Regions from separate parts of the Homo sapiens genome. Here region 1 is linked to region 2. The links come from fine-mapping of genetic effects on gene expression. A gene starts in region 2. The other region holds a variant in brackets. All regions are shown on one strand. Distances are from middle to middle. Region 1 overlaps USB1 (U6 snRNA biogenesis phosphodiesterase 1). Region 2 holds the start of SPMIP8 (sperm microtubule inner protein 8).

The links.
Region 1: its variant is fine-mapped to the expression of SPMIP8 in whole blood (TOPMed, PIP above 0.99).

The regions. Positions count from the first base shown.
Region 1 is chr16:58,005,995-58,014,935 of GRCh38, reverse strand. It overlaps USB1 (U6 snRNA biogenesis phosphodiesterase 1), which reads right to left. Exons shown (of 7, transcript NM_024598.4): 3 at 4,824-5,007; 4 at 610-663. Among named protein-coding and RNA genes, the nearest start is that of USB1, 9.1 kb to the right of the region's middle. RefSeq lists enhancers at 1,661-2,192, 2,193-2,725. The variant T/A (reference allele first, on the strand shown) is at 5,201.
Region 2 is chr16:57,972,658-57,981,814 of GRCh38, reverse strand. It overlaps SPMIP8 (sperm microtubule inner protein 8), which reads right to left and starts at 5,271. Exons shown (of 8, transcript NM_199456.3): 1 at 5,181-5,271; 2 at 3,776-4,000. The coding sequence starts at 3,998.

The sequences.
Region 1 (8,941 bases), 33 kb before region 2:
CAGCTAATTTTTTGTATTTTTAGTGGAGATGGGGTTTCGCCATGTCAGGCAGGCTGGTCTCGAACTCCTGACCTCAGGTGATCTGCCCACCTTGGCCTCTCAAAGTGCTGGGATTACAAGCGTGAGCCACCGCACCTGGCCTTTTATTTTTTTGAGACAGGGTCTCACTCTGTTGCCCAGGCTGGAGTGCAGTGGTGCAATCTTGGCTCACTGCAGCCTCGACCTCCAGGGCTCAAGCGATCCTCCCATCTCAGCCTCCCAAGTAGCTGGAACTACAGGCACACACTACCATGCTCAGCTAATTTTTGTATTTTTCATAGAGACACGGTTTGGCCATGTTGCCCAGGCTGGTCTGGAACTCCTGAGCTCAAGCTATCCACCTGCTTCAGCCTCCCAAAGTGCTGGAATTACAGGCATGCGCTACTGTGCCTGGGATCTCCCAGTTATTTTTCTTAAAGAAAGGTTCAGATTTGGGGATAGCTGCCTTTATAGTCATAGAGTTGGTTAAAAGCAAACAAAAAATGGGACAAACAAGTCCAGAAACAAAGCACTCAATTTTTGCACCAAAGAATCTTCCTCTGATGGTGATTGGGGGTTGGGAGGACCCACCTGGTTTTCTCTTGATTGGTGTAAATCTTTACCTGGTTGGCAGTAAAGAAGAATCTGAAATTTAGAAGACCATATTTCAGGAAAAATCGTAAGAAAAAAAGCAGAAAAAATAGCTTATGTTAAAAAAAAACAGCACTTTGAAAATATAGTTAACTCATTTTGCACTTCATATTATCACCCCATTATGCAGGTGGTATACTGAACCTTAAACATTAGAGCTGGACAAGACCTTAAAATCACCCAGCCCGAGTAACACACAACATCATCCAGGTGCTAGTAAAAATTTTACTTTGTTAATAGCAGTTCATTTCGATAAACAATTTGAGACTATCTCAACTTCACTGATGGGAACTGAGAAAGCCTTATTGATCAAGTAGGTGATAATGGACCACTTAACAGCTGATTCATTTCTTGCAGTTTTTTAAAATAGATGACTCCGATTTCATCTAAGCAATCACGACAACATTTCTTCGTGTGTCAGGGCTGAGCTCAAGCCTTTGCACACTCTGTTTCTCGAATCCTCACACAACTCTGTGAGCAGGCCTACAATTATGCCCATTTTACAGACAAAGAAACAGAGGCATGGTGAAGCTGAATTTGGTGAGCCAGGATTGGAACAGTCAGTCTGCCTGTTTCCAGAGTCCTTGTTGTCACCTATGACGCTTTCGTGAGGGGAATAGGTCTGTTGGTGTGAAATCGAGACAGATGCCCCCACCCACCCACCCCTCAGATCAATAACACGGGAAGAGTCAGGCTCAGCTAGGTAAGTGCTTTGACTTGGACTGGTTCTGTCCTTTATTCTCTGAGACACTAGCAATCTCACCATGGAAAGTCTCCTCACAGAAACAGATCATTTTACAGCCCCCAGGCCAAGGGTCTCACCCCCATCTGAGGGAACATAATATACCAGCATGCTGGGTAGAGCCTCACAATCTGCCCAAGGGCAAAAGTCAGTCAGCCAACTCTCTGCCTCTGGAGAAAATGTAAGGGATCACAGAACCACCAGGAGCTTGGTTAAGTGCAGCTTTTAGGAAGAGTTCTCAAGGTGTCTCCCAAACATCCTGGAGTGGACACTGGATGTCTGTGCCCAACCAAAACTCCTTCTCCTGGTAACCTCGTGTTGCAGGATGGCTCTCCACCCCTACTCCAGAGGCAGGCTGCCCAGGCCTGGCCAAACAGAGCTTAGCATTTCCTCAGTCACAGCAACAGAATCAGGGGTGCACCGCCCACTCTTGGTCACCTTAGGCTCAACCAGATGATCAAAGTTGAACAGACCACACCTGCCCGGGCTTCACTCATGACACAGATCCTTTCCTCAGAGGGAACCAGCCCAGGGGTCCAGGTGCTGTTTTCTAGTCTCTCAGTGAGCAAGGGAACCAGCCACATATACATCCCACAGGGATCAGTATTTCTTGCAATGGACTTTAGGCAGAGTTTTCCTAAGTCCCAGCAAGGGACTCGTGCCCAGTTAAGGAACCACTGTATGCAGGGGAGCCCAGGCCGTGGCTTCCCTGGAGGGGTGCAGTTCATGCTGTCTTCCTAGCGCAAGTGCAGTGTGCCAGTCATCAGCACTAACATAGCCGCTCTCCTCCTTCATCCAGGGGCAGAGCTTCCGCAGGATAAGGGAAGCACTCTCTGTGGAAGGGGGAAGGGCCTGTTAACTCTTTACTCCCAAAGAAAGCACACAGGAGACGGGTCAGACCAGGCAGTCATTCCTGTGACTTGTGCTGAAGCCAATCAGAGAGGGAGGCTGTCTTTCCAGGCTGGTACACCATTAGCCGGGAGATGCGGTGGCTTCGTCATTGTGACAAAGGAAGGGGACAGAGCTGAGATGGTGAACAGTCTGCCTGTGGTGGTGACAGTCAGGTGCCATCTGATATCTTGTCACCCCGGTCCACTCATGCATGAGCCAGTGCTACCTCTGAATCTTTTAGTTATACCAGCCTATAAATTTCTCTTTGGTTTAAGCCACTTTGGGTTGGGCTTCTGGCATGGGCTTCTGGCACCTGTGGTTAAGAGAGTCCTGATAATATACAATCAATCAACTTGATAATGACAATCCAAAGAGGGGGAGGGCTGGACTAGGTTGAGAGATGAGTTTCAGCCCTTATTCCCTGGCCGAGTGTCTGGATTGGGACAAATCCTGTCCTCCTCTGGCCCTCAGAAGGGGTTCAGCTAACTGAGCAGTTTCCTAGTTGGGCAGTGACATCCTATGGAATTCCTGGGCCTATGGCCCCCTGAACTGTGGGAATGGGGCTTTGGCTAGAAGACTGTTTATTTCTGTTTTACACAGCCACACATCAGGCTTTTGTGCAACACCTCATTTGAAAAAAGGCTCTGCTGATAAAGGCAGGGTCAGAAAACCATCAGCCGGGTGGCTTCTTAGGCTCCTTCTAGTATCAACAGTAGAGGATCCAGAAAGATATTCTCTAGGCTCCCTCATTCCCGCACCATGACTCAACAAGCATCTATTTGATGTCTACTGTGAGCAGAGCACTTGGAAAAAAGCTGTGGGGCAATTCAGAGAGAAGCCACAGTCCTGGCCTGGAGGAATGTGGGCTCCAGGAAGGAAGATGGACACAGGAACGACTGCATATGAGGGTGAGTGAAATGACCACCAGGGGTAAAGAACCACAGGACCAACTGATCTCTGGATGGAGGGGTCACCTGTGAAACAACCACAGGGCCAACTGATCTCTGGACGGAGGTGTCACCTGTGAAACAACCACAGGACCGACTGATCTCTGGACAGAGGAGTCACCTGTGAAACAACCACAGGACCGACTGATCTCTGGACGGAGGGATTCTGCAGGATATGCCAACCGGGAGAGCCTCAGTGAAAGAGCAGGGTTTTGATCTGGACCAGTCTAGCAGGAGATGCATTTCTGGTAGGAAAAGAGTTATGAAATAATCTAATAGGTAAGGGGAAAAAAAAAGCCCCAGGCTGGCAGACAAAACCAGAAGTGGGGTCTGGTACTAACCCTTCACCCAAGTGGTGTGCTGAGGGCACCCATGATCTCCTTTCACCCCCATAGGCCCCCAGTGAGGTAGCTCCCACCATTACCATGACCTGTTTGACCTATCACTGTGAAATGATAACATATGTGTTGGTCTCAGCCTCCAGTTCCTGACACAGAGATCCTAAAACCTGTGTCATTTCCTAAGCAGCAGGGGTGCTAGGAGCATCTTTTGTTCTATTATCTGGTCTGTGATCCTGGCTCCTGACGCAGAGCTCCTAAATCCTTTGGAATTTCCTGGGTGACAGGGGCATCTTTGGTTCCAATGAGGCAATGAGGTCCTGGATGGGGGCTGATCACAGAAAGAGCAAGGCATGATTAGAAGCTGGGAACTTTCAGCCCCACCCCCTACCCTCCCGGTATGGGAGGGAAGCTAGAGACTGAGTTAATAATCCATCATGCCTATGTGATGAAGCCTCCGTAAAAATTTGGAACTACAGGGTTTGAGGAGCTTCCCTTGGTGATTAAGAACGCACCCATGTGCTGGGAGGGTGGCTCACTCCCAACTCCACAGGGTCAGAAGCTCCCATGCTCGGGACCCTTCCAGACCTCACCCTACCTATCTCTTCATCTGGCTGTTCATGTGTATCCTGTAACATATCCTTTGTAATAAACTGGCGCCCTAGTAAGTGGACTGTTTGCCTGAATTCTGTGAGCCATTCTAGCAAATGATCAAACCTGAGGAGAGGGTCCACAGAACCTCTGATTTGTAGTGAAATCAGACAGATGTTGTGGGTAACCTGAGAGCTCAACACTGCAGATGGTGTCTGACAAGGAGCGCAGTCTTGTGGGACTGAGTCCTTAACCTATGAAGTCTGCACTAACCCTGGGTTATTAGTGTCAGAATTGAGTTCGATTATAGGACACCCAGTGGGTGTCTGGAGAGTTGGATAATTTGTTGGTGTGGAAAAAAACTCAACACATCTGGTCACAGAAGTGCTGGAAGTACTGAGCAAGAGCTTACAGAAAAACAGCTGGCTTTTCCTACAGAGCAGATACGGCATCAGGGGTGTCAAGAGCTTCCACGGCATGCCCAAGGTCACGGAGGATGAGAAGTAGAGCAGGCAGCCCCAGGAGAGGGGCCGTGTTCTATCTTTAGGTCTGCCTGCCTGCTGGGGTAATGCCCGCAGTAGCTCAGGAGAGGAGGAGAAGCCATGGAGGGGAGGGAGTGGAGAGGCAGAGGGAAGAAGCACTCACCTGTGGAAGGAGGTCATACGGGCTTTCAGAGCCTGCACGAAGGGGAGGATCCAGTGGTGGCGCAGAACCACACTCTGGGACAGGCTGAGGTGGAACACCTTCATCCTTACCAGCCGGGGGACATATGTCTGGGCATGGGGCAGCAACACATCAAGCAGATCCAGGAACTCCTCCTTGGCTTCATCTGGAGGGGAGGAGTAAAGAGGGCGGGCCGTTCTCTCAGCCAAGGTGCCATGGCTGAATGAAGAAGCCCAGAAGGCAGAGGGAAGTCCTTATTACTCTGGGTTTGGGGAGAAAATTACTTGGACAGCAGCCTATGTCTATGTCTTCTAATATAATTTTATTTTCATTTATTTATTTATTTATTTATTATTATT[T/A]TTTTTTTTTTGAGAAGGAGTCTTGCTCTGCCGCCCAGGCTGGAGTGCAGTGGTGCAATCTCGGCTCACTGCAAGCTCCGTTTCCCGGGTTCATGCCATTCTCCTGCCTCAGCCTCCCGAGTAGCTGGGACTACGGGCGCCCGCCACCACGCCTGGATAATATTTTTTTTTTGTATTTTTAGTAGAGACGGGGTTTCACCGTGTTAGCCAGGATGGTCTCGATCTCCTGACCTCGTGATCCGCCCGCCTCGGCCTCCCAAAGTGCTGGGATTACAGGCGTGAGCCACTGCGCCCAGCCTCCAGTTTTTCTTAACAAGGTCTACCCTCAGGAGAAACTTACTGAATTACAGCCTAACCTGAAAGTGTTTTATCAGACTCTTAACTGACCTAGGGGAAGTGAAATACCAAACTGCAGCACCTTCTGGTCATCCTGTCCCACCTAGGAAGGGGAAAATTCTGAGAAGCGTGTGGGAAGTTCCCAGTCCAGAGGAACCGGCTCACCAAAAGATTGACACCCAATCACAGGACTACAGAAGGATTCTTGTCCCCCACCACCTCACCACCACATTCATACAGGCCTGTTTACCACAGTTCCTTTTACATAGTACTTCATGTCCAGCTATCGAGGAAAAATTACAAGACATACTAAAGGGCAAAAATACAATCTGAAGAAAAATAGTAAGCATCAGAACCCCTTAAATATAAAAGACTAGAAACCATACAATGTCTGATCTCAGGCCACAATGAAATTAGACTAAAAGTCTGTAACAGAAATGTAGCTGGAAAATCCCCAAATACTTGGAGATTAAAAAACACACTTCTAAATAACACACGGATCAAAGAAGAAATCTCCAGAAAACTTTATAAATATTTTGAACAAAATAAAAATGAAAACATAACTTATCAAAACTTGTGGAATGCAGCAAAAGGTGCTTAGAAGAATATTTATAGCATCAAATGCATATATTAGAAAAGAAGATCTAGGCCGGGTATGGTGGCTCACGCCTGTAATTCCAGCACTTTGGGAGGCAGAGGCAGGTGGATCACTGGAGGTCAGGAGTTCGAGACCAGCCTGACCAATATGGTGACACCCCGTCTCTACTAAAAATACAAAAATAACTGGGCACGGTGGTGCGTGCCTATAGTCCTAGCTACTTGGGAGGCTGAGACAGGAGAACCACTTGAACCTGGGAGGCGGAAGTTGCAGTGAGCTGAGATTGCGCCACTGTACTCCAGCCTGGGTGACGGATCGAGGCTCCCTCACAAAAAAAAAAAAAAAAAAGAAAAAGAAAAAGATCTAAAGTCAATCATCTGAGTTTCATCTTAGGAAAGTAGAAAAACAACAGCAAATTTAATCCAAAGTAAGCAGAAGTAAAGAAATAATTAAAATTAGAGCAGAAATCAATAAAATTGAAGACAAGAAATCAATAAAGAAAATCAATAAAACCAAAAGCTGGTTGTTTGAAAAGATCAGTAAATCAACAAGTTTCTAGCCAGGCTAACTAAGAAAAATAGAGAGGGCACACAAATTACTAAAATCAGGAATGAAAGATGGGACATCATTACAGATCCCATGGATAATAAAAGGATAATCAAAGAATACCATGAATAACTTTATGTCCACAAATTTGATAACCTAGATGAACTGGAACAATTCCTTGAAAGACCCGATCTGCTAAAACTCACAAAAGAAGAAATAATCTAAATAGGCCTAAATCTATTAAACAAATTGAATTATTATTATTTTTTTTTTGAGACAGAGTCTCACTCTTTTGCCCAGGATGGAGTACGGTGGTGCAATCTTGGTTCACTGCAATCTCCGCCTCCCAGGTTCAAGCGATTCTCCTGCCTCAGTCTCCCGAGTAGCTGGGATTACAGGCACCCGCCACCAAGCATGGCTAATTTTTTTGTATTTTTTTAGTAAAGACAGGGTTTCACCATGTTGCCCAGGCTGGTCTCAAACTCAGGCAATCTGCCCGTGTTGGCCTCCCAAAGTGCTGGATGATAGGCGTAAGCCACTGCACCCAGCCTGAATAAATAAATAATTACCTTCCGGCTGGGCTCTGTGGCTCACACCTGTCATCCCAGCACTTTGGGAGGCCAAGGTGGGTGGTTCACCGGAGGTCAGGAGTTTGAGAACAGCCTGGCCAACATGGCGAAACTGTGTCTTTACTAAAAATACAAAAATTAGCCAGGCGTGGTGGTAGGTGCCTGTAATCCCAGCTACTCATGAGGCTGAGGCAGGAGAATAGCTTGAACCTGGGAGGCAGAGGTTGCAGTGAGCCGAGATCATGCCAGTGTGCTCCATCCTGGGCAACAGAGTGAGACTCTGTCTCCGAAAAACAAACAAACAAACAAACAAACAAAAATTACCTTCCAAAACAGAAGGCACCAGGCCCAGATGGGTTCGGTTCACTAGAGAATCCCACCAAACATTTAAGGAAAAAATTAAACCAATTATCTATAATCTTTCAGAAGACAAAAGCAGAGAGAATACTTCCTGACTTATTCCATGAGGCCAGCATTATCCTCATACCAATACCAGAAAAAGACATTACAAGAAAACTACAGACCCATATCTCTCATGGACAGAGATGCAAGATTTTCAAGAAAATATTAGCAAATTGAATACAACAACATATAAAGAGAATAATGCTCCACAACTAAATGGGATTTATCCCAGGTATTCAAAGCAGGCTCAACATTCAAAAATCAATTAATGTAATCCATCCAATCAATAGGCTAAAGGAGAAAAATCAAATGATCCTATCAATAAATACAGAAAAAGTATTTGACAAAATCCAATACCCATTCAAGATAAAAACTCTCAGAAAACTAGGAATAGAGGGGAACTTTGTTAACTTGATAGAGAATGTCTAAAAATACCTATAGCTAACTGATAGGAAACTCCAAAGCTTTCCCATTAAGATCAGGAACAAGGTAATGATGCCTCCTCTCACTATTGCTTTTCAACTCATACTGGAAGTCCTAGCTAATGCAATAAGGCAAGAAAAGGAAATAAAAGGTATACAGATTAGCAAAGAAGAAATAAGCCTGTTTTTCTTTTTTTTTTCCCCAAGACAGAGTCTTGCTCTGTTGCCCAGGCTGGAGTGCAGTGGTGCACTCTCCGCTCACTGCAACCTCCACCTCCCGGGTTCAAGCAATTCTCCTGCCTCAGCCTTCTAAGTAGCTGGGATTACAGGCATGTGCCACCATGCCCAGCTAATTTTTGTATTTTTAGTAGAGATGGGGGTTTCGCCATGTTGGCCAGGCTGGTCTTGAACTCCTGACCTTGTGATCTGCCCGCCTTGGCCTCCCAAAGTGCTGGGATTACAGGTGTGAGCCACTGTGTCCGTTTTTTTTTTTTGTTTTTTTTTTTTTTTGAAACGAGGTTTTGCTCTTGTTGACCAGGACGGAGTGCAATGGTGCAATCTTGGCTCACTGCAACCATTGCCTCCTGGGTTCAAGTGATTCTCCTACCTCAGCCTCCCAAGTAGCTGGGACTACAGGCATGTCCCACCACGGCTGGCTAATTTTGTATTTTTAGTAGAAATGGGGTTTCTCCATGTTGGTCAGGCTGGTCTTGAACTCCCAACCTCAGGTAATCTGTCCACCTTGACCTCCCAAAGTGCTGGGATTACAGGTGTGAGCCACCACACCCAGCGTGTTTTTCTTCATAGATGACATAATTGTCTACGGAGAAAATCCAAAAGAACTACCAAAAAAAATTTCCTGGAAGTA
Region 2 (9,157 bases):
GCAATCACAAGGCCAGGTGCGGTGGCTACGCCTGTAATCCCAGTGGTTTTGGAGGCCAATCACTTGAGGTCAGGATTTTGAGACCAGCCTGGCCAACATGGTGAAACCCCATGTCTACTAAAAATACAAAAATCAGCTGGGCGTAGTGGCACACGCCTGTAGTCCCAGCTAGCTACTCAGGAGGCTGAGGCAGGAGAATCACTTGAACCGGGGAGGCGGAAGTTGCAGTGAGCCGAGATAGCGCCACTGCACTCCAGCCTGGGTGACAGAGTGAGACTCTGTCTCAAAAAAAAAAAAAAAAAAAAAAAAAAAAGAGAAAGAGAGAGAGAGAGATTACAAGACTAAGAGAACAGACTCTTTGTGGCAATAAGATACCAAATTATAATAATAATAATAATAATTATTATTATAATAATAATAATTATTATTATTATTGAGACGGAGTGTCACTCTGTTGCCCAGGCTGGAGTGCAATGGCGCGATCTCGGCTCACTGCAACCTCCGCCTCCTGGGTTCAAGCAATTCTCCTGTCTCAGTCTCCCAGTAGCTGGGATTACAAGCACACACTACCACACCTGGCTAATTTTTGTATTTTTAGTAGAGACAGGGTTTTACCATATTGGTCAGGCTGGTTTTGAACTCCTGACCTCAGGCGATCCACTTGCCTTGGCCCCCCAAAGTGCTAGAATTACAGGCGTGAACCGCCACGCCCGGCCAAGATACCAGATTATTAACAGGACCTAAGGCCATGCCAGGCAAGGGTTAAGTCACGCACCCCTACACTTAAAGAATAAACTACAGGCTGGTCGTGGTAGCTCACGCCTGTAATTCCAACACTTCGGGAGGCTGAAGCTGGAGGATCACTTGAGCCCAGAAGTTGGAGACCAGCCCTGGCAACATAGTGTAACCCTGTCTCCACACAAAACAAACAAACAACAACAACAGCAACAAAAATAGCCTGGCATAGTGGTGTGTGCCTGTAGTCCCAGCTACTCAGGAGGCTGAAGTGGCAGGATCACCTGAACCTGGGAGGTCGAGGCTGTAAAGAGCCATGTTTTTGACATTGCACTCTAGCCTGGGTGATGGAGAGAAACTCTGTCTAAAAAAACAAAACAAAACAAAACGAAAAGCAAAACACAAAAATAAATAAGCTATGTTTTAATTGCCATGAGGTTTTTCTTTTTCTCTAGCCCTGGACTTGAGATAAGCAATATTAAAACAATTACAACTCATACAGCTCACAGATGCTGATGAACTGACCCCCTGATCCACCAGCCACAGCTATGCCTTTGATTGCATAAGAGGCTGATTTCAGTAACTTTCTCCAGGTAAGAAGACCACCAACCATGGACTGGTCCTGCCCAGCATACAGAGGCTGCTCACTTGCTGGGCTTCGCGTCCTGAAAAGAACTTTTGACGTATAGGGACTAATTGTAATACATTTAAAGGTTAAGTCTCCACCTCAAAGCGAACATGGGTTGTATGTTACATGCATGTTTGTTCAATATGCCCATGTCAGTACTATCTTCATGAATATTCATAGCTCCTCCTATAAACTATTGAATATGTATGTTTAGCCAACCCTTTGAACATAAAGCTCTTACCCAACCCCTCCTCCTTTGACATGCCTATCTTTGGGCTTAAGCTGGAGGCACACTTTCCAGCCTGTGGGATGGCCACCTGGCAGCTATAACCCCTTGTAAGAAATAAAGTCTCCTTTTCTAAACTTATACATTTATTTTTATTTTTTGAAGATGGAGTCTCGCTCTGTCACCCAGGCTGGAGTGCAGTGGCTCCATCTCGGCTCATCGCAACCTCCGCCTCCCGGGTTCAGGTGATTCTCCTGCCTCAGCCTGGGAGCTGGGATTACAGGCACCCGCCACCCCGCCCGGCTAATTTTTGTATTTTTAGTGAAGATGGGGTTTCACCATGTTGGCCAGGCTGGTCTCGAACTTCTGACCTCACGTGATCTGCCTGCCTTGGCCTCCCAAAGTGCTGAGATTGTGGGTGTGAGCCACCGTACCCTGCCTAAATTTACAAATTTCTGGGTTTTCAGTTAACAGTAATAAAAAGTTGGGGAGCAAAATAACATGTGTTTATATTCCCATTAGTAAACCAGGGAGAGACATCAGAAACTAAGAATGTGGTGGGGGGGTGGTTACCTGTATGCGGGGGCAGTGGGAGTGAGCCTTGTTGCTGTGCATATTGTTATAGCATTTTGAGCTTTGAAGTTCTGACTATTACTTTTACTTAAAGCATATGCTTACAATAAAATACATATCTACATCAGAGCTTTCCTTAAAAATCTAGATTCCTGGCTTCTCTCAGAAGCGGGAAATTGGAAGAACTGGTGACCTGGCTGGCCCCTCCAACATAGCACAGTCTGTGGGGAACCCCGTGGCTGCCGTTTAAATAGGGCAGGTGTGGGTGCCCCTTTTCCCTGTGGAGTGTTCCTTCCCCACGGCCTCCCCACCCACTTCCCTCACTTGTGTTTCCCATTAGGGCCCATGTGGCAACTCTGGTAATCTCCGTGCGGTCTCTGACACCCTCAGCCCACCTGTCACCCAAGCTGGAGCCTAGGTATGGGCCTGCACTCCCCCTGTTTGGCCTCCTACCCTGCCCCGCCTGCACCTACTCCTGTTGACTTTATCTGCTAAATACCTTCTAAATCCCTCCACACGCAAGCTCCTCAGTCCATGCGGGGTTATTCACTAGGCCCGTGGGGCTCTTTTGCCCTGAAGGCCCACACGTCTTCCTCTCCTGCATGGGGGCTGTGAGGAGAGGTCTTTCTCTCTCTTTTCCACATACAGAGATGCTTGGGCAGAAGTTACTACTGTTATGACTCCTACCACTGCACCTGTCAACCTCTGCCCAGTTCTCTCTCCATTAATTACAACAGGCTAGGCACAGTGGCTCATGCCTGTAATCTCAGCACTTTGGGAGGCCAAGGCAGGAGGATCGTTTGAACCCAGGAGTTGAGACCAGGCTAGGCAACATAGGGAGACCCTGTCTCTACAAATAATTTTTTAAAATCAGCAGGGCAGGGTGGCACGTATCTGTGGTCCCAGCTATTCGGGAGGCTGAGATGGGAGGATCATTTGAGCCTGGGAGGTCGAGGTTGCAGTGAGCTGTGATCATGCTACTGCACTCCAGCCTGGGCGACAGAGTAAGACACTGTCTTCAAAAAACAAAACAACAATAACAACAATGGCATCAGCAATACTTTTTGAGCACATATTATGTGCCAGGCACTACTCTAAGTGCTTTTTTTTTTGAGACGGAGACTCACTCTTGTTGCCCAGGCTGGAGTGCAGTGATGTGATCTCGGCTCACTGCAACCTCCGCCTCCCAGGTTTAAGCAATTCTCATGCCTCAGCCTCCCAAGTAGCTGGGATTACAGGTGCCTGCCACCACGCCTGGTTAAGTTTTGTATTTTTAGTAGAGATGGGGTTTCACCATGTTGACCAGGCTGGTCTCAAACTCCTGACCTCAGGTTATCAGCCTGCCTTGGCCTCCCAAAGTGCTGGGACTGCGCCCAGCCTCTAAGTGTTTTTTGTGCCTTATCTCCTTCTAACCCCACAACAACACTTTGAGGTAGGCCTTGTCAATTATCCTCATTGTACTGAGCAGTAAACAGAGGCTCAGACCTGGCCAAAGTGTCCTGGGCAGGGAGCAGCAGAGCTGGGACTGGCCTCTTTCATCCTTGCATCTGTCTCCCTCTTTCCTGAAACCATCTGCCCCTTCCCCAAAGGGGATCCTACACTGGTGTCCTAACCTTTGCGGCAGTAGGTGGTGGACTGGCAGTGCTCATCAGGAAGGCAGGCCTTGACGGTGTCCCTGTCCATGTGGCGCAGGGTGGGCAGGGCTGGGTGGTAGAGCTGCTGCTTCACGCCCGCCAGCTGGTTGCGCTGCCGCTCCATGGGAAGCAGGATGGCCGGGGAGGCATACACATGTGTGGAGCCATCGTCCCAGGGCACCAGGTCAATGATGCGGGCCATAGCTGGGGGGCAGAGGGTTCTAAGGGGCTCACCCTGGGCTCATGCTGGCCAGACACCCTTCTCTGCATGAAAACAACCTTGGCCAGTGCCGATGTCTACTTGCCAAACATTTATTTAGCACCTACTGTGTGCCAGGCCATTTTTCTGGAGCTCAGCATGAGGTGGCAGGAACATTCAGATAACAGAAGATAACAGAGACAACCCTCCCACTCCCCTTCCAACACACACATACACACACACACACACACACACACACTCACATTGTGCCATGGCTGTGAGGGAGGTCAGTACAGAGTGTGTGTTTCTGGGGAGGCTGGGGTTAGGACATTCAAGGAATGGTCTAAAAGAGGTGGTATTTGAGTCTATTCGTTTTTTTTTCTTTCTTTCTTTTCTTTTTTTTTTTTTTTTTGAGACAGTCTCACTCTTCTGCTCAGACTGAAGTACAGTGGCGCCATCTTGGCTCAATGCAACCTCTGTCTCCTGGGTTCAAGTGATTCTCCTGCCTCAGCCTCCTGAGGAACTGGGATTATAGGCATCCACCACCACATGTGACTAGTTTTTGTATTTTTAGTAGAGACGGGGTTTCACTGTGTTGGCCAGGCTGGTCTCGAACTCCTGACCTCAAGTGATCCACCCGCCTCAGCCTCTCAAAGTGCTGGGATTACAGGTGTGAGCCACCTTGCCTGGCGAGTCTATTCTTAAATAATAAGCAGGAAAGTGCAGCAGCAAGCGGGTTCAGAATGTAGCTTAGTATGCCGTATACCTCTGGGTGAATAATTATGGACTTGCCCTAGCTATTTACCCAAAATTCTACAGATTGACTCAGAAAGATTTTCAGGAAGGGGAGCAACATGATATATTTAAACTAGAAAAGCATTACTGGATACCCAGTGCCTCCCTTTAAAAAGCAGATAGTCCCAGGAGCCTTTCAGTCATTTACACTTTAGTGAGAATTTGTTGAGACAGCTTGCTTTCTTCCTGACCCTGAGTTAGAGGTGAGAGGTGGAGGTGGAAGCTAGGGTGGCAGGAGGAGAGAGGACCTTAGATCATGGAGGAGCAGGGAGGGGGCATGGTGACAAGGCATGGGGAAGCTGCCTTAGGGGATGTGACTGCCTGGGGAGGGACAGGGAGGGGGATCACGGATATGGGGAAGAGAGCAAGGGCTCCCTGCTTCTGACTCACCAATAGCAGCTACCTTATCTGTAGGGCCCAGGCCCAGGTGCACAGGCTTATAAGGACTTTCAGTTCTTTGACTGCTCAATGGGCAGAAGAGGAAGGGAGGTGGACGAGCCCTTATTATGGACAGCAGCAGAATAAAGGAACATTGTGCACAGACAATGCCCATTGCAGCCTGATTCTGAGGCACCCACTCCTTAGCAACCCTGGCAACTACAGGCTCTAACAAGAGCCTGTGCCAGAATTCCTGTGCTCTGGCCACTCCCTTCCAGCCTTCCTGAAGGCTGTGGTCTCCCAGGCCTTAGCACAGGCCAGGCATCTTGGGAAATGTCAGATGGGGAGCTGGGGTTCCCTGGAGGTAGTCAGGCCAAGGCAGGCCAGAAATGGCTACTGAGCCCACTGCAGGCTGTGTAATCCTGGGCTAATTACCGCCTCTCTCTGGGACTCAAGGCTCTCCTCTGTGTTAGGCAAGGACTCTAGGATCTGCCGTTAGGAGGATCTGGATGCTGAGAGGGATCTCCCCTCCCTGGAACCCTCAGGGAAGAGGGCACTGCACTGTCTGCCAGCCCTTGAGTCTCCAGGAGTGGAGATTAGCTGTGGCCAGTATCCAGGGTAAGCGTGAGGGGATCAGGGAGAGTGGTGGACTCAGCAGGCCAGGGATTAGCAGATGATACTCCACCCTCAGCCCCTGCAGGACTGCAGGCTCCCAGAAAAGCCAGGCTGTGAGTGCCCAAGGCCAGCACCCCAAAGCCCTGGGGCCTGCCCACCATCCTGGTCACAACCATTAGAGACAGACCCCCAAGGTGAGGAAACCCCAGGAGATCCTAACTTATTTGCATATATTGGCATGTGCTTTTGCATATACCTGCCCAGGGGCTGAACCTGATGGGTCTTGGAGCCCCTCCTGTGAAATTCTTGTAGGATTTGTTTCCCCAGTTGCTCCTCCTCCAGTGCTCCATACAGCTTCCAGAACAGCATTCCTAACTGCTACCCCTTACAAAAAACCTTCCCAGAGTTGACTCCACTCACCACCCCACCCCCAATTTATTTCTTGACTCTTTTAAAGTTATAAAATAGAAGAAATACAGAAAGTGAATAAATATCTAATGTAACTAATAATTTACAAAATGAGACCCCGTATAACTACCACCCACCCTGGTCAAGACATGGAGTACTACTTTTAAAACAGTTTATCAGTTTCTTAAAAAATGAAACAGAAATGTACCATATGATTGGGTCATCTGGAAGATTCTACCCCAGGAGGCTTCCCAAGAGAAATGAAAGTATATTGTGAGGCACGATGGCTCACACCTGTAATCCCAGCACTTTGGGAGGCTGAGGTGAGCAGATCACTTGAGGTTGGGAGTTTGAGACCAGCCTGGCCAACATGGTGAAAACCTGTCTCTACTGAAAACACAAAAATTAGCTGGGCGTGGTGGTGCAAGCCTGTAATCCCAGCTACTCAGGACGCTGAGGCAGGAGAATCGCTTGAACCTGGGAGGCGGAGGTTGCAGTGAGCCGAGATCGCAGCATCGCACTCCAGTCTGGGCGGCAAGAGCAAGACTTCGTCTCAAAAAAAAAAAAGTATATATCTTCACAAAGACTTGCACACAAATGTTCATAGCAACATGATGTATCGCCAAAAAGTGGAAACAACCTGTGTCCACTGATGAGTGGATAAACTGTGGTGCGTCTATACCATGCAATACTCTTGGGCAATGAAAAGAAATGAAGTTCTGATACAAGCTACGAGGTGGATGAACCTCATAAAACATTACGCTACATCAAAGAAGCCAGATGTGAAAACTCACATATTGTATGACCCATTTATATAAAATGTCCAGGAAAGACAAATCTATAGACGCAGAAAGCAGATGTGTGGTTGCCTGGGACTGGGGTGTACGAATGAAGAGTGGTTATCATCTGGTGTGAGGGGTCTTACTGGGGCAACGGGAATGTTCTAAAACCAGATGTGGCAAGAGTTGCACAGTTCAGTCAATGTGTTAAAAATCATGAGTTAGGCCGGGGCGGTGGCTCACGCCTGTAATTCCAGCCCTTTGGGAACCCCGAGTGGGTGGATTGCTTGAGCCCGGGAGTTCGAGACCAGCCTGGGAAACATGGCGAAACCCTGTCTCTACAAAAAATATGAAAATTAAATGGGCATGGTGGCATGTGCCTGTGGTCACAGCTACTTGGGAGGCTGAGGTGGGATAATCACTTCAGCTCAGAAGGTCGAGGCTGCGGTGAGCTATGATCACGCCACTGCACTCCAGCCTGGGTGATAGAGTGACACCCTGTCTTAAATAAATAAATAAATAATAAGTAATATAAAAGTCATTGAGTTGTATACTTACCATGGGTGAATTTTATGGCATATATATTCCCATAAGCTTGTTTTGAAAAATAGATGCCAGCCAAGTTAGTAAAAGAAAGCAAGACATTGGCCCTGCCAGTCCCTAGAAGCTTCCACATACACCTTCCCAATTACAACCCCCAACCCAGCAAGAAGGAACCACTCTCCCATCTTGTAGTACAACCTGTGCTTTTATTTATGGGCAACTATGGAAAACTTTATTTAACAACTCTAGGCTTTATAGAAAACTAGAGGTGGCAAATGTACTTGTGTTTGTAGCCATAGACAGGACAGACTAATTTTGCCTTTTGGGAATTTTGTATGCATGGATCACTGGGGTCTTCTTTTGAATCTGGCTTCTTTCTCTCCATATATATGCACATGAGTTTCATCCAAACTTTAGCCACTGTGTGTGGCTGTGTTTTGCTCATTTTCCCCACCCTAGAGCCCACTACTGTTCCCTCAGGCTCATCTAATTTTCCCTCCTTCCCACTCTGCAGGGGCTCCAACTGCCTCTAAGTTGCCCAATCTCAGGACGCATTTCAAGTCTCAGCTCAGACAGTGGCCCCTTGGATCATTCCCTCACCCCAACACAGCCACTACTCTTGGCTTTCACCTCACCCCATGCTTCTGCTTCTCCATCCCCATCCCTGGCAGCTCCTTCAGGCTCCTTTACCAGCTCCTGCTCTTTTTGCATCCTCTGAGTGAGCCCGTGTTCCAGGTGCCACCTCTGGTCATCTTTGTTTCCTTGGGTTTCCGAGGTGATATCAGTCAGTCCTGTGGCTTTAAGCATCATCTGCAAGCTGAGGCCTCCAAAATTTCTATCTCCTGTAGACCTCTCCCTAAGTCTCACACACACACACACACACACACACACACACACACACATTTCAACCTGGATGTCTCTCAGACTTTTTTTTTTTTTTGCTTAGGCTGGAGTGCAGTGGTGTGATCTTGGCTCACTGCAACATCCACCCACCGGGTTCAGGCAATTCTCCTGCCTCAGCCTCCAGAGCAGCTGGGATTATAGGCACCTGCCACCACACCCGACTAATTTTTGTATTTTTAGTAGAGACGGAGTTTTGCCATGTTGGCCAGGCTGGTCTTGAACTCCTGACCTCAGGTGATCCACCTGCTTTGGCCTCCCAAAGTGCTAGGATTACAGGCGTGAGCCACTGCACCCAGCCTCTCTCAGACATCTTAACAAAGTAGTGCTCATGATTTTCCCTCCAAAATTCTTCCTCCAAACTTCCAGCCTCAGGCTTCTTCTTTTCAGTACATGTGTAAACCAGCCTGGGGCGGTTTACTGGTTCACCCACTAAACCAGCTACCCAGTTTCCCAGGGTGAGCCCCTCAATGCCCGCCTTTTTCCTCCCCTTTCCCTTCTATCTGTACTCCCACCAGCATAGTCCAAGCCCCATCATCCCTCCCGTCAGGCTGCAGGCAAGGGCGAATGTCACCTGTGTTAGTCTCAGGCCCAAGCAGAGCAGAAGGGCTTGCTGCTGTTCCTTGGGGAGGAGCTCTGACCCCTGCAGCCTGGCATATTTGTAGGGAAGGGTCAGGGAGTACATTGAGCTTTACCGTTGGGGTCTGGCCTTGCTGGCAGAAAGAACTTTCTTGTGAATCACTT